Linked DNA regions of Homo sapiens. The protein of the gene in region 2 interacts with the protein of the main gene of each other region in a pairwise test. Each region holds a gene or a part of one and is shown on either strand. Other genes may lie near its edges. The genes, in order: RNF32 and ELAVL3.

Evidence for each region.
Region 1: the proteins of ELAVL3 (region 2) and RNF32 interact in a two-hybrid assay, tested with the Homo sapiens proteins (one study listed by BioGRID and IntAct).

What each region holds. Positions count from the first base shown.
Region 1 is NC_000007.14:156,671,639-156,677,779, forward strand, and holds the end of RNF32 (RING finger protein 32), read left to right. Parts: intron 1-4,057; coding exon 4,058-4,225; intron 4,226-4,656; coding exon of another isoform or gene 4,657-4,737; exon of another isoform or gene 4,738-4,780; coding exon 4,781-5,017; 3' UTR 5,018-5,492; downstream 5,493-6,141. UniProt on the Homo sapiens protein: May play a role in sperm formation.
Region 2 is NC_000019.10:11,450,780-11,457,284, reverse strand, and holds the end of ELAVL3 (ELAV-like protein 3), read left to right. Parts: intron 1-136; coding exon 137-175; intron 176-2,407; coding exon 2,408-2,759; 3' UTR 2,760-5,959; downstream 5,960-6,505. UniProt on the Homo sapiens protein: RNA-binding protein that binds to AU-rich element (ARE) sequences of target mRNAs, including VEGF mRNA. May also bind poly-A tracts via RRM 3. May be involved in neuronal differentiation and maintenance.

The DNA.
Region 1 (6,141 bases), on a different chromosome or scaffold from region 2:
TGCAGGACGCCGATGTTTGCGGTACAGGCGGTCCTGTCGCCCAGCTCATGAGCACAGTCCCCAACAGTTAGTTTTTCAGCCCGTGTCCCTCCCCAGTCGTCCTAGTATCTCATGTCACCATCTTTATGTCCACGTACTTGAAGAAACTTAAGTCGTGTAGAGTATGTTCCCTGACCACGGTGCAGCTGAGGCTAGAAATAAATTTTTTTTAAAAAAATAGAACTATCTCACGTTTGAAAATAAACGGTTCTAAATAACGTATTAATCGAAGACAAAATTATAATGGAAATGAGAAGAAATTTCAGTTGAATAGCAAAAGTACATATCAAAACTTGTGGAATGGAATATTTCATCAAAACTTGTGGAAAGGAATATTTGCGTCTGCCATGCTAGGTTTTCTTCTGTGGAATCAAACACCTGAGTGTGGAATTAGTTTGTGATTCTTATGTATATTAAAATATCCTAAGCATTTATTTGCTTTCTTGCTATATTACACCAGTTACCATTAAGACTGGAGCACTAAGTGTTAAGGGCCACCCTCCCTGAGATTTATTTGGTATATATGCAAAACTGACAAGTCTGTTTCTTTCAACAAGTGCCTACTATGGTCGGTGCGTGTACTGAGCTCTTGAGAGGGTTTAAAGGCAGGGTGTGACGACGACAGGTGCAAAACCCTTTAAAAACCCTGGATGCTATTACCAGCGTTAAGAACAGTCCTGGCCCCAGGACTAATAAAGGAGATAGGACCTGTATGCCACAGTGACTGAGGCAGAAGGAGGCAATAGGTGACATCAGTATTGGACCTCAGGGTCTTTGTCATCAATAGGGCCACTTAGGAGTCACCCAACACAGTTGTTCAGAGCATATGAGCTCTATTTCCATCTAAAGTGTTTGAAGGAAAATGTACTTTAAAAAGTCCTAATGATGCTGTCTTTGGAAGTTTATCTTGAGCTAAGTAACTCATTTATGTAACATCAGGACAGCTGGGATTGCTCCAGGCATCCTGTAGAGAGAGCGATACACTCACGTATGATAGAATATATGCACACACAGGTGACACTGTAACATAAATGCATATAGATGTACATACATATTTATATGTGGCCCGCACACTTACTCTGTTCCTCTCTCAAGTGGCTTCTGAAAGCGCACGCACAGCGATACCCATGCTTGGAGTTGGGAGGTGACACCTCCAGGAATGATAACTAATGCTGTGTTAAATAACTTTGCATATTTAAAAATGTGATCGGTAACTTCTATGACCGTGGTTCTTAAACCTGAATGGGCCTCAGAATCACCTGGAGGGCTGTAAAGCATATCGCAGGGCTCACCCCGCGGACTGTGGCCTCGGCAGGCCCGGGGCAAAGCCTGAAAAGCTCTGCTTTTCTCACAGATTCCCAGGAGCTGAGGCTGCGGGGTCTGGGCCCCACCTTGAGAATAAACACCCAGATCATATCGATCATTTCATTCAATTGATCAGTCATTCCAAATAGTACTTTTATGTCCAAAACTAATCTCAGAACATACCTCACAAGTTGAAACACTTTGCAAGGTCTGGACTAGAATGTGACCCTTTTTCTGAGGTATAATTTTGAAGGAAGAAAAGATCTTGCTTTTCAGGCATATGTGGAAAGTATCTCACACTTAAAAACAATTTACAGAAAACCTGAATTACAAAGCATCAATTGGAGGTAACTGTGTATATTTCCAAGTAATTTTTCCTTTTACAATGTATAGAGAACTCTTCTACTTTCAATAATTTATTTAGATATTATTAGATATTTGAAAGGCCAAGGAATAAAGAAAATTAAAATTAAAGCCTTAGGAAACGTTACCGATTCAAGACCCTAAATTAAGATACAGCTGCTTGGCAATTATAATTACATTCAGAGTGAAAGAGAATTTGACTCATAAATAGAAAAGCAGCTTCCACCAGGCTTCCAAGTACGGCTAATCCCAAAACACAGGTGCCTGGAAGATCCTCAGCCACCCCCTTCATTCAAACCCCAACCCTTGTGGACTGCCTGCTGTGTTCACAGAATGTTCTTTACTCAAAAGGACCTCTCATCCTTAAAGCCAATACTCATTCTTCTAACATCCCAGGGAGAAAGGCAGCTCATAGTCTCCACAGCACTCGACCCTGCGCTGTCTCACGATCTTTTTGCAGAAGGGAGAGAATTGGAAGAGAACTCCATGTCCTCAAAGGCACCTTCAGAAGTCTGGTGATTTAAATACACACTACGTTCTGCCAGGTTGCTCCACATTAATAAAAAAAAAAAAAAAAGAAAAAGTGAACGTGAGGACTCCAGTAGACTAGAATATTTGAAACCTGGACAGTCATGGACCATCCAAAATGCATTTTCCCCATCACATATCTAAATGTGTGAGATCTCCACGGGACTTGTTCATTTCATCCTTCTTTGTGCTTCAAGCCGGATTCCATGAAGCAGATGTAACTGCTGAATCGGCACTTCTCACTGCTGGACAAATAACCCCCCGAATTTCAGTGACTGAAAGCCAGAGCTTCGGTCTCATAGGACAGTTCAGGTGTCCTGGCTTGCAGGCAACATGCCAGCCTGTGGGGCTCGGGAACTGTCTCCCTCTGCCCTTTATCTGCCACCCCCCGGGCCTGGAGAACACCCAGAAGAGACATGAGCCACGTCCATCTGGAAGAACTACTTCACGTGGCCCCACCTGGGCATGGGGGAATGGGAAATGTCATCTCTGGGTGAGCCACAGCTCTGTACTTGAAAGGACAAGCAAGAGGGCAGGAAGTGTGGCTGACAGTCACCATTGGCACAACCTTTTACACACCTTATTCTCCTTTGCTTTACACTCTTCACATGTACTAAAAAGGAGCCGCTGGTGTGGCCCTGAATGAGCCACCTACCCGTGCCTCAGATGACACTGGTGGCCACTCTGTAATGACTCAGACCTTTCTAGTGTAGGATGGCTTGAGCCCGGGAGGCCGAGGCTGAGTGAGCATTGATGGCCCCAAGCACTCCAGTTTGGGTGACAGAGCGAGATGCTGTCTCCACCAAACCAAACAAAAATACCAAAAAAAACAAAGTACTGTATTCAATTAATAAACGTTGAAGTGATAATATTTTGGATCTGTTGGGTCAGATACAATATTAAAATTAATTTCACCTTTTAAAAAACTTAATGTGACTGCCAGAAATTTTAAAATTACATACGTAGCTCACAGTATGTTTCTATGGGACAGAGCTGATCCTGCGAAATTCGAACTTTTCTCTCAACTTTTAATTTCAAATGTGTTCCTGCTAATGGTCAAAGCTCACAACCAAGAAAACAGCAGGGGAGGGAAACAATATACCCTTTTCCCCTACCCTCCTAAATTCTTCAGCTGGAGCCCTGTAAGTTAAGCTTAACGAGAAAATTACACGGATTTACTTAGTAAGTCCCATGTGGTATGGAAGCCTTCCTAAGGCAGCGCAGACCGGAAGAGATAGTGCAGACCCGAAGAGGCAGCGGCGACCCGAAGGGGCAGCGGAGACCCGAAGAGACAGTAACGCCTGAGCGCTTTCTATGCTAGGTTGGATGAGGACACAGAGGTCGTGGGGAAGCATGACAGGACAAGGGGTGAGCTGAGGGTGGTCGGTGGGAACCACGGCAAGGCCTGTGTGCTGTCTCCTCCCGGCTCCCTCCGTCTTTGGAGACGAGGGTGCCTCTCACAGGAGGGTCCTGTGACCCACTTTAGGGGTGGGGAGAGGTCAGACGGTCCCTCCTGCAGCTGTCATTTCTCAAATTCCTTTGGGAAGGAATGTTTTTTCCTTAAAATATTCAGTATGCCAAGGTGCCGTATTTTGGGGTAGTGTGTTCTGGACTCCATCAGATAGGGGTTCTTGTGGTCATCTGTCCAGATTATCTGGATTTATAGTTAAGTAAAATAGACATATATCTATTTCCCTAAAAAGTATTATTCGAAGACAGAGACGAGGAAGGTTACCAAAATAGATGGTCAGGCTCGAGAGCGCTTCCCTGCAACCTCCACCGAGCTCAGGTGTGAGCTTACCCGCCCCCGCCTCCTCCTCAGTTCACAGAAATCAGCCACCGCATCCTGTGCTCATACAACACCAACATTGAAGAGCTCTTTGCAGAAATCGATCAGTGCTTGGCCATAAATCGAAGTGTTCTTCAGCAGTTGGAAGAAAAATGTGGCCATGAGATCACAGAAGAGGAATGGGAGAAAATCCAAGTGCAGGTAGGTTTGGCTGGCAGCCTGGCAACCAGCAGACTCAGCTGCAGCTGCAGAGGCTGTGGGGAGTGGCATGTGGGGGGAGGTCGAGGACTCACTTTGGGGAGCCTAGGAGTGTCAGGCCCGGGGTGCAGCCGTGGAGGCTGTGGGGGTGGCATGTCGGGGGAGGTCGAGGACTCACTTTGGGAAGCCTAGGAGTGTCAGTCCCGGGGTAACCGCTGCCCTAGCTGCCCCTGCACCTGTGGTAGGACTTTCCTCATGGGCTTTAGGGTGACGGCAAAGGTCCCTTCAGTTTGAAATTCTGGAAGTTCCTGTTGGATGTTGCTTATCACAGGTGGGTTACTAACCCTTTCCACAGTTCCCAGGAGTAACAGAGTATATGTGTGTGTATATATATATGTATATATATAAATAAAATGCATGTGATTTTAACACAGAATGAAACTTCCGCATGTTTCGAAGACCCATGTCTCGGGGCACATGGTTCGCATTTCAGTTTAAGTAACTTTCTGCTGTGATGAAACTAACCCGCGTGGCCTCTTCCCGTCCTGTGTGCCGCAGGCTCTGCGCCGGGAGACCCACGAGTGCTCCATCTGCCTGGCCCCTCTCTCCGCTGCTGGCGGTCAGCGCGTGGGTGCAGGCAGGCGTTCCAGAGAGATGGCCCTCCTGTCCTGCTCACATGTGTTCCACCATGCGTGTCTGCTGGCACTAGAGGAGTTCTCCGTGGGAGACAGGCCTCCTTTCCATGCCTGTCCTCTCTGCCGCTCCTGCTACCAGAAGAAGATTCTTGAATGTTGAATTCATAGTCAAGGAAAGTTAGGTAATTCTGAGGAAAAAAGTTTACCATCATTTTGGATGAACTGCATGAGTTCTGGGTTAAGTACTACAATGTAATCTGTTTCCCAGGGAAATAAGCTATTGGTAGTTGTAGGAAATCTTAGTATATTTTAAAAGCTGACATCCCACCTAATTTTAATCTTTGGTCTCTAAAAAGTAAATTTCAAATTTATGAGTTTAATCACTTCAAATATGAATAGCAAAAAATGAGAGCTTGCTTACTTCTAAAAATTGAGGTTAAGATATAGCTAGTGTCTGAACGACACTCCTTAAAGTAAGTTCCAAATGTAAAACACTCCTTAAGTTCCAAATGTTTTCCGCTAATAGTCTGTCCTAAAGCCTTTGCCATTCCTAATACTCGTTTTGTAATAATTGCTGTATTTCTGTGTAATAAAATATAAAAATAAAATATTCAGTGGTATTCAACATCAAAAAAGTGCAAATTTTAATGTCTTAGAGCAATAAAGACTGTTTTAGTTCACACATTTTAAAAAAAAGTGAACCTTTTTGGATAAGAATTGTTTTTGTCACTGGTTTACTATTACTGGGAGCTTGGTTATTTACAGTAACCAGTTACAGTCTCATCGGTTAGGTTACCCCTAGCCGAGTAACAGATAAAGCCCCAACTCTCAGTGGCTCGCTGAAGACACATGATTTCTGAGGTGTCCAACCCATGTCAGCCATGGGTGAGGCAGGGCGAGGGTACACCATGTGTGACCCTGGCTCCTTTTGTCTTGTGACACAGTCTCCTTTGCCCCCGAGTCCCCAGTGAATCCTGTCACTGCTGGTGGAGGGGCAGGAGGACATTGTTCCAGGCCATGCTTGGGAGTGGCGCTCATCACTCCAGCCACAGTAACTACAAGGGGCAAGGAAAGGGCAGGGTGTAGGCCTAAGAGGAAGAGGCCAAGTGGGTGTGCACATGGCATGGGCTCAGAATAACCCAGCATCTAATGTGAGAAGAAATGCCAAAATTTCTATTTATTCTTATCTCATCCCTTAGAAAAAATACTCTCCTATGTTTTGTGATGTACACATTATATAGCTACATATGTATGTATCATTTATGAATAAATATGCATATATTG
Region 2 (6,505 bases):
CGGGCGGGGAGCAGGCAGGCGGGGGCAGGGCTCTGCTGCAGGCCTGTTGGGTGGGGGTGGGGAGGGCAGGCCGACGGTGTCACAGCAGGGGGGCGTGACTGGAAGCCACCTCTGACCACCACCTCTGCCTCCACAGGCTGGACAATTTGCTCAACATGGCCTACGGCGTCAAGAGGTAACAGTGACCCCGCCCCACTGTCCCCACCCCTCACCATCCATGCCCCTGATGCACCCCTCCCCAGCTCACCCCCAGGGCTGCAGGCTTAGCCTTGTTTGCCTGGGTCTTGGAGTAGCATGGCCATTGAGAGATGTGACATCAAAGCCAGACGTGGTGGTTCTCGCCTGTGCTCCCAGTGTTTCGGGAGGCTGAGGGGCAAGGAGCACTTGAGGCCAGGAGTTCAAGATCAGCCTGGGCAACATAGTGAGATCCTTCTCTACAATTTTTTTTTAAGGATTAGCCTGATACGGTGGTGCATGCCTGTAGTTCAGGCTACTCAGGAGGCTGAGGCGGGAGGATCGCTTGAGCCTAGGAGTTGGAGGCTGCAGTGAACTATGATGGTGCCACTGCACTCCAGCCTGGGTGACAGAGCGAGACCTTATCTCCAAAAATTAAAAAATGTGGCTGGGCGCGGTGTCTCATGCCTGTAATCCCAGCTACTCAGGAGGCTGAAGCAGGAGAATCGCTTGAACATGGAAGGAGGAGGTTGCAGTGAGCTGAAATCGTGCCACTGCACTCCAGCCTGGGCAACAAGAGCGAAACTCCATCTCAAAAAAAAAAAAATAATTAAAAAATGTAAAAGAAGATCTCAGTCTGAGTCTAGTGGGGGAGGAGACAGAGAAATGAATGGTGATGAAAGCTGTGAAGTAGAAGGGGTAACAGAGGCCGGGCGCGGTGGCTCACGCCTGTAATCCCAGCACTTTGGGAAGCCGAGGCAGGCGGATCACGAGGTCAGGAGTCCAAGACCAGCCTGGCCAAGATGGTGAAACCCCATCTCTACTAAAAATACAAAAATTTAGCTGGGCACGGTGGCAGGCGCCTGTAATCCCAGCTACTCGGGAGGCTGAGGCAGAGAACTGCTTGAACCCAGGAGGCGGAGGTTGCAGTGAGCTGAGATCGTGCCACTGCACTCCAGCCTGGGCGACAGAGTGAGATTCCGTCTCAAAAAGAAAAAAAAAAAAGAAGGGGTGACGGAGACCCAGCAGCAGAGACCCCCCAGTCCCATCTGAGGCAACATCCACACAAAGGCAGAGTGGAAAGGGAGTTCCTAGCAGTGGGAAAAGCCTGTGCAAAGAGGGCCAGAAGGAGCGAGTAGTTTGTTCCTCGTGGTCAGGATTGAATGGTTCAGGCCCTTGGGTCCTCCCTTCCCAGCTGAGGGGTTTAATCCAAGGGCGGGATTGCCAGTGAGGAATGTGAGTGGAGCCAATTCTGTCCTTTCATTAATTCATTCAACAGACACCTCCCAAGTGCTTACTAGGTGTTGTTCAGGGGCTGGAACAAACTCTTGCAGGGAAGATGAAGTTGATGATAATAAATATATGATTTGAAAAGGAAAGCCGGGTGCAGTGGCTCACACCTGTAATTTCAGCACTTTGGAACTCCAAGGTGGTAGGATTGCTTGAGCCCAGGAGTTCGAGACCAGCCTGGCTAACGCAGCGAGACCCCACCTCTACAAAAATTTTTAAAAATTAGCGGGGCATGGCTGGGTGCGGTGGCTCATGCCTGTAATCCCAGCACTTTGGGAGGTCGAAGCGGGCGGATCACCTGAGGTCGGGAGTTCGAGACCAGCCTGATCAACATGGAGAAACCCCATCTCTATTAAAAATACAAAATTAGCTGGGCGTGGTGGCAGGTGCTACTCGGGAGGCTGAGGCAGGACAATCGCTTGAACCTAGGAGGCAGAGGTTGCAGTGAGCTGAGATCATCCCACTGCACTCCAGCCTGGGCAACAGAGCAAGACCCCGTCTCAGAAAAAAAAAAAAAAAAATTAGTGGGGCATAGTGGTGCACCTGTAGTCCCAGCTACTTGGGAAGCCAAGGCAGGAGGATTGCTTGAGCCTGAGAGTTCGAGACCAGCCTAAGCAACATAGTGAGACTGTGTCACCACAAATCATAAAAAAAATTAGCTGGGTGTGAGGGCGCCTGCCTACAGTCCCAGCTGCTCAGGAGGCTGAGGCGGGAGGTTTGCTTGAGCCCAGGAGGTCAAAGCTGCAGTGAGCCATGATTGCACCACTGCACTCCAGCCTGGGTGACAGAGCGAGACCGTGTCTCTAAAAAAAAAAATTGCATTGCAGGGGTCACACCATTCCAAGGTCATGGCACAGTCAGGGGTCATAAAGGTGTGAAGGGTCACAACGGGGTCAGAAGCATGCGGGGGGTCAGGGCAGAGCCCGCGTGACCCCCAAAGTAGTCCCCTGTCGCTCATCGCCAGGTTCTCGCCGATCGCCATCGATGGTATGAGCGGCCTGGCGGGCGTGGGCCTGTCGGGGGGCGCGGCGGGCGCCGGCTGGTGCATCTTCGTGTACAACCTGTCACCGGAGGCAGACGAGAGCGTGCTGTGGCAGCTGTTCGGGCCTTTTGGGGCAGTCACCAACGTCAAGGTCATCCGTGATTTCACCACCAACAAGTGCAAGGGTTTCGGCTTCGTGACCATGACCAACTATGACGAGGCGGCCATGGCCATCGCCAGCCTGAACGGCTATCGCCTGGGCGAGCGCGTGCTGCAGGTCTCCTTCAAGACCAGCAAACAGCACAAGGCGTGAGCCCACCCCGCCTGCCCTCCCACCCCCTCCCCGGGCAGCAGAGAGAGAGAGAGAGAAAGAGAGAGAGAGAGAGAGAAGGGGCCCAAGAGAGACAGCACAGGCAGCCCCACGGACGACGCGAGGGCCCCACGTCCCTGCGGAAGCCACAGGGTGAGCACTCTGGGGTGGGAGGGTCTGCAGGGAATTGGGGGGGTGCCCGGGGATCCCCCGCCCCATCCTCCTGCCCCCACCCCAGGCTGGGCTGTTCACTCTCTCGTCTTGGTTTGGTTCATGGTGAAGGTTTTTGTTTCTTTTTTCGGCTAAAAAGAATGCAGAGATGTGCCCCCACCCCCACCCTCGACCACCCCCGATGGGATGGCTTGGGGGGCTCCAGGGGGTGCCCTCCCAGACCCCCTTGCCCAGGCCTCCCCAGCACCTAGGTGGGGCCTGGGGTAGGAGGAACAGGTTTAAAAATCCCCAAAAAAGCGAACCGTGAGGAGGGGTGTGGGCACCCCCGGCCCAGTGCCCCCTGGTGGAATGCGGGGGAGCAGGCAGTGGGGCTGGAAGCAGAAACAAAATGAAAAAAAAAGGGGGGTGGGAGGGGAAGAAAAACTCTATTTTTGTAAAAAGGGAAAAAGACCTCGTGGAGAATTTTTACTGGGGATTCTTGAACTTGAAAAAAAAAAACACAAAAAAAGACAAAAAAAAAAAAAGAAAATATTTTGGCAGGTTATGTTTACCAACTGGGGCGGGGGTGGGGGGGGCCCAGGGAGCAGGGCTTAGGGGCTAGCAGCCCACGGGGCCACACAGAGAAACAACCACGCAGACAGTCACACCACGGGGACACACGGACAGACGCAGACGGACACAGCGACATGCCCCAGACACGTTAAGGGACTGGTTGGCCAAACTCAGACACGTGGACAGGGATAGACAGAAAGAGACAGAAGCTGGGGCTACGTCCATGTGGACACAGACCACAGATGTGGGCACACGAATCCATCCACCTGTCCACGTGCACACGTGAATGTAGCGATAGATATTTGGACATCAAATTTGGACACCAGGTCACGGAGAAACACAAACACCACCCAGGAACACGCAGACATATGCCCATAGCATCCCACAGGCCCAGGCAGGAGGTCCCACCCCAGACCCTGCCCCAGACGCTCCCTCACCCTCTCGGCCCCCTCGCCCTGGCCCCCAGGTTCTCTGCAGAGATCTCTCCTGGACCCCCAGCGGTCTCCTTGGCGCCCACGAACACAGGCGTGCACACGCAGCGCACATGCATTGAGACACACGATACCTCGTTCCACCTTGGCGTCACGGTGGGCTGGAGGCAGCCCCCCCCCCCACAACACTTGAGGCCAAAGGACACCCCTGTCCCCGGGGCTCAGCCTCCCCCTGGGCCGAGGCCTTGGCCCACACAGCTGAGGGAGAGGCCCAGCCCTGAGCCTCCCCCACCAGGACTGGGCCTCCCCGGCAGCAAGACCCCGGCACTCCCCGCCAGGCCCAGGGTGGGGTGGATGGGCCCAAAGGCCCAGCCCCACACTCCTTTCCCGTCCACTTGTCACCTACCTATCCCCTTTCGGTTTGTTGGGTTTTTCGTCTTTCCAGATTGCAGTGGACACAGCCCCCGATCTCGAGCCCCGGCCCCCGGCTTCTGTCTGGACATTGCATCGCCCTAGTTTTCTTTCTTTAAAAAAAAAAAATTCCAACAGAAGCCACAGGCCGGAGCCCCTGGGAGCCCTCGCACCGCTCCCCACCCCACTCAGCGGCCCCATCGGAACTGAGAATTGCAAAACCCCCGACTTTAGCTATAGTTAAGTTGCCTTCCCCCGGTGTCCCCACGTTTGGTGTCTGGCTATGGCGCCCCCATCTGACTGTCCAGCTCTCTCTCCCCCACCCCTCCCGGTGTTGTTATTAAACGTCTGTGGAGCTTCTGCTGCAAGGAACAAAAAAGAAAAAAATCAAAAAAGCGACAAAAAAACACAAACAGAAGAGGAAAAAAAAGCAACAAAAAAAGAAAACACACAGAAGAGATTTAAAAAAAAAAAAGGAAAAAAAAAAAAGACATAAACTGGCACCAGTTAACTTTCTTGTACTTTTTTGCTGAATTTAGCTTCTTGTAGTTTTAACTTATTGCTATGTTAACTATTTATTCTCCTCGTTGCCCTGTAAGGACATCCGTGTATATTTCTGTTACTTCATCCGGTTTGCAAGTTAAAGGAACGACAATGTTCTCTTTGTTTCTTTAAGTTTTGCCGAGACATGGTTATGCCTAATTTATTTATAAAAGGGGAAGTGGAATCATTAAAGTAATAATAATTATTAATAACAGTAATGGTAGCCGAGTGGCACGCGGGGGCGTGTGCTCTGCGGGACAGTCCCCACGGCCAGCGACGTCCAGGTCACCAATGGGATTCTTTTTGCTCTTGTCTTGAGAATTTTTTCAGTCCTATTTAGCTGGTGAAATCCCTAGCTTGTTCTTGATACACGAACCTATTTATTCTCGTGGTTTTAAGTCCTCCCTGCCCTCTCTCCTCTCCCCTGCAGCAGGGCAGGGACCCCTCTCCCCTGCTGTCTCTTGGGGCTCTCTCCCCTCCGCCCTCTGCATTCGGGAACACGCACGTCCGCGTGGGAAGCTTGCAGCAGGGCGTCCGAGCAATAAGGGCTGGGTTTGTCCCCCACCCTGGGGGGGGCCAGGCTCCAGAGAGGGGGCACCTCCCCACACACCCCCCCCCCACCGAGGCCTAGGCCCCTGCCACCCCCAAGACTGGGAGGGGACTTCTTTTTCTAAAACACAAAACTCAGCCCAGCCAGGCCCCCTCCCTGGAGGCCAGCCCCTCCCCGCAGGGGGCCAGGCCGGGGCTCCCAGGCGAGGGGGACTTGGGGCTTCCACGTCCCTGGGGGGCAGGGGCCAGGCCAGGGGGGAGGGGGCTCAGCCCCTCCACCCCTCCCTTCATCCTGTTATTTATTCGGAAGGTTTCAAATCACGACAGAGTCCATGTTGGAGGTGATAAAAAACTGTAAAAAAAAAAAAAAAAAAAAAGACAAAACAAAAGACAAAAAAAAAAAAAAAACCCAACAAGAACACTTCGCGTTGCGTTTAGACTATTTATTACCGGGATCACAGGCCTGGCCGCGGTAACAGACTTTTACATGGAATTGTTTAATTATTTGTACTTTTCATGCCAGAAAATAAAAGTTCAGAATCTTAAGGCCTTGGGTGATCTCTGCACCGCTGCGCGGGGAGCACGCAGGAGCAGCCTGTGTAGTAGCGCCCAGGCCCCCGTCCTTCTCTGGGCCTGGGTCTGTCTGCAGCAGGGGCTTTGGCCCCGGGAGGGAACCCTTGGCCTCCACAGAGCACAGATGAGACCCAGGGAAGGTGGGACACGGGCCCGGATGGATGCTCAAGACAGAAATGGTCCAGGGTCCATCCACCTGGTATCTTCAGGAGTGATCCCCAGATGGTGGGGGAGGCCCGGGTGGGATCTGCAGAAAGCTGCGTCCCCTGCGCTCAACCCCTGCCCACACCCCGGTCCACACCCCAGCAAAGCGAGGCAGACACAGACAAGTTTGGGTGGGGGATCACATTTATTGTATTGAGGTCACAGGTCAAGTCATTCACTAGTCCCCACTAGGAGGGGTGGCAGGGACAGGGCTGGGGGTGGTGGGGCGAGTCACCAAGGTGGGGGGCCCAGGGAGGGCAAGCTCCTTTACCCATCTTTGAAGGCTGTTGGGGCCTGGGAATGTGGACCAGCCCC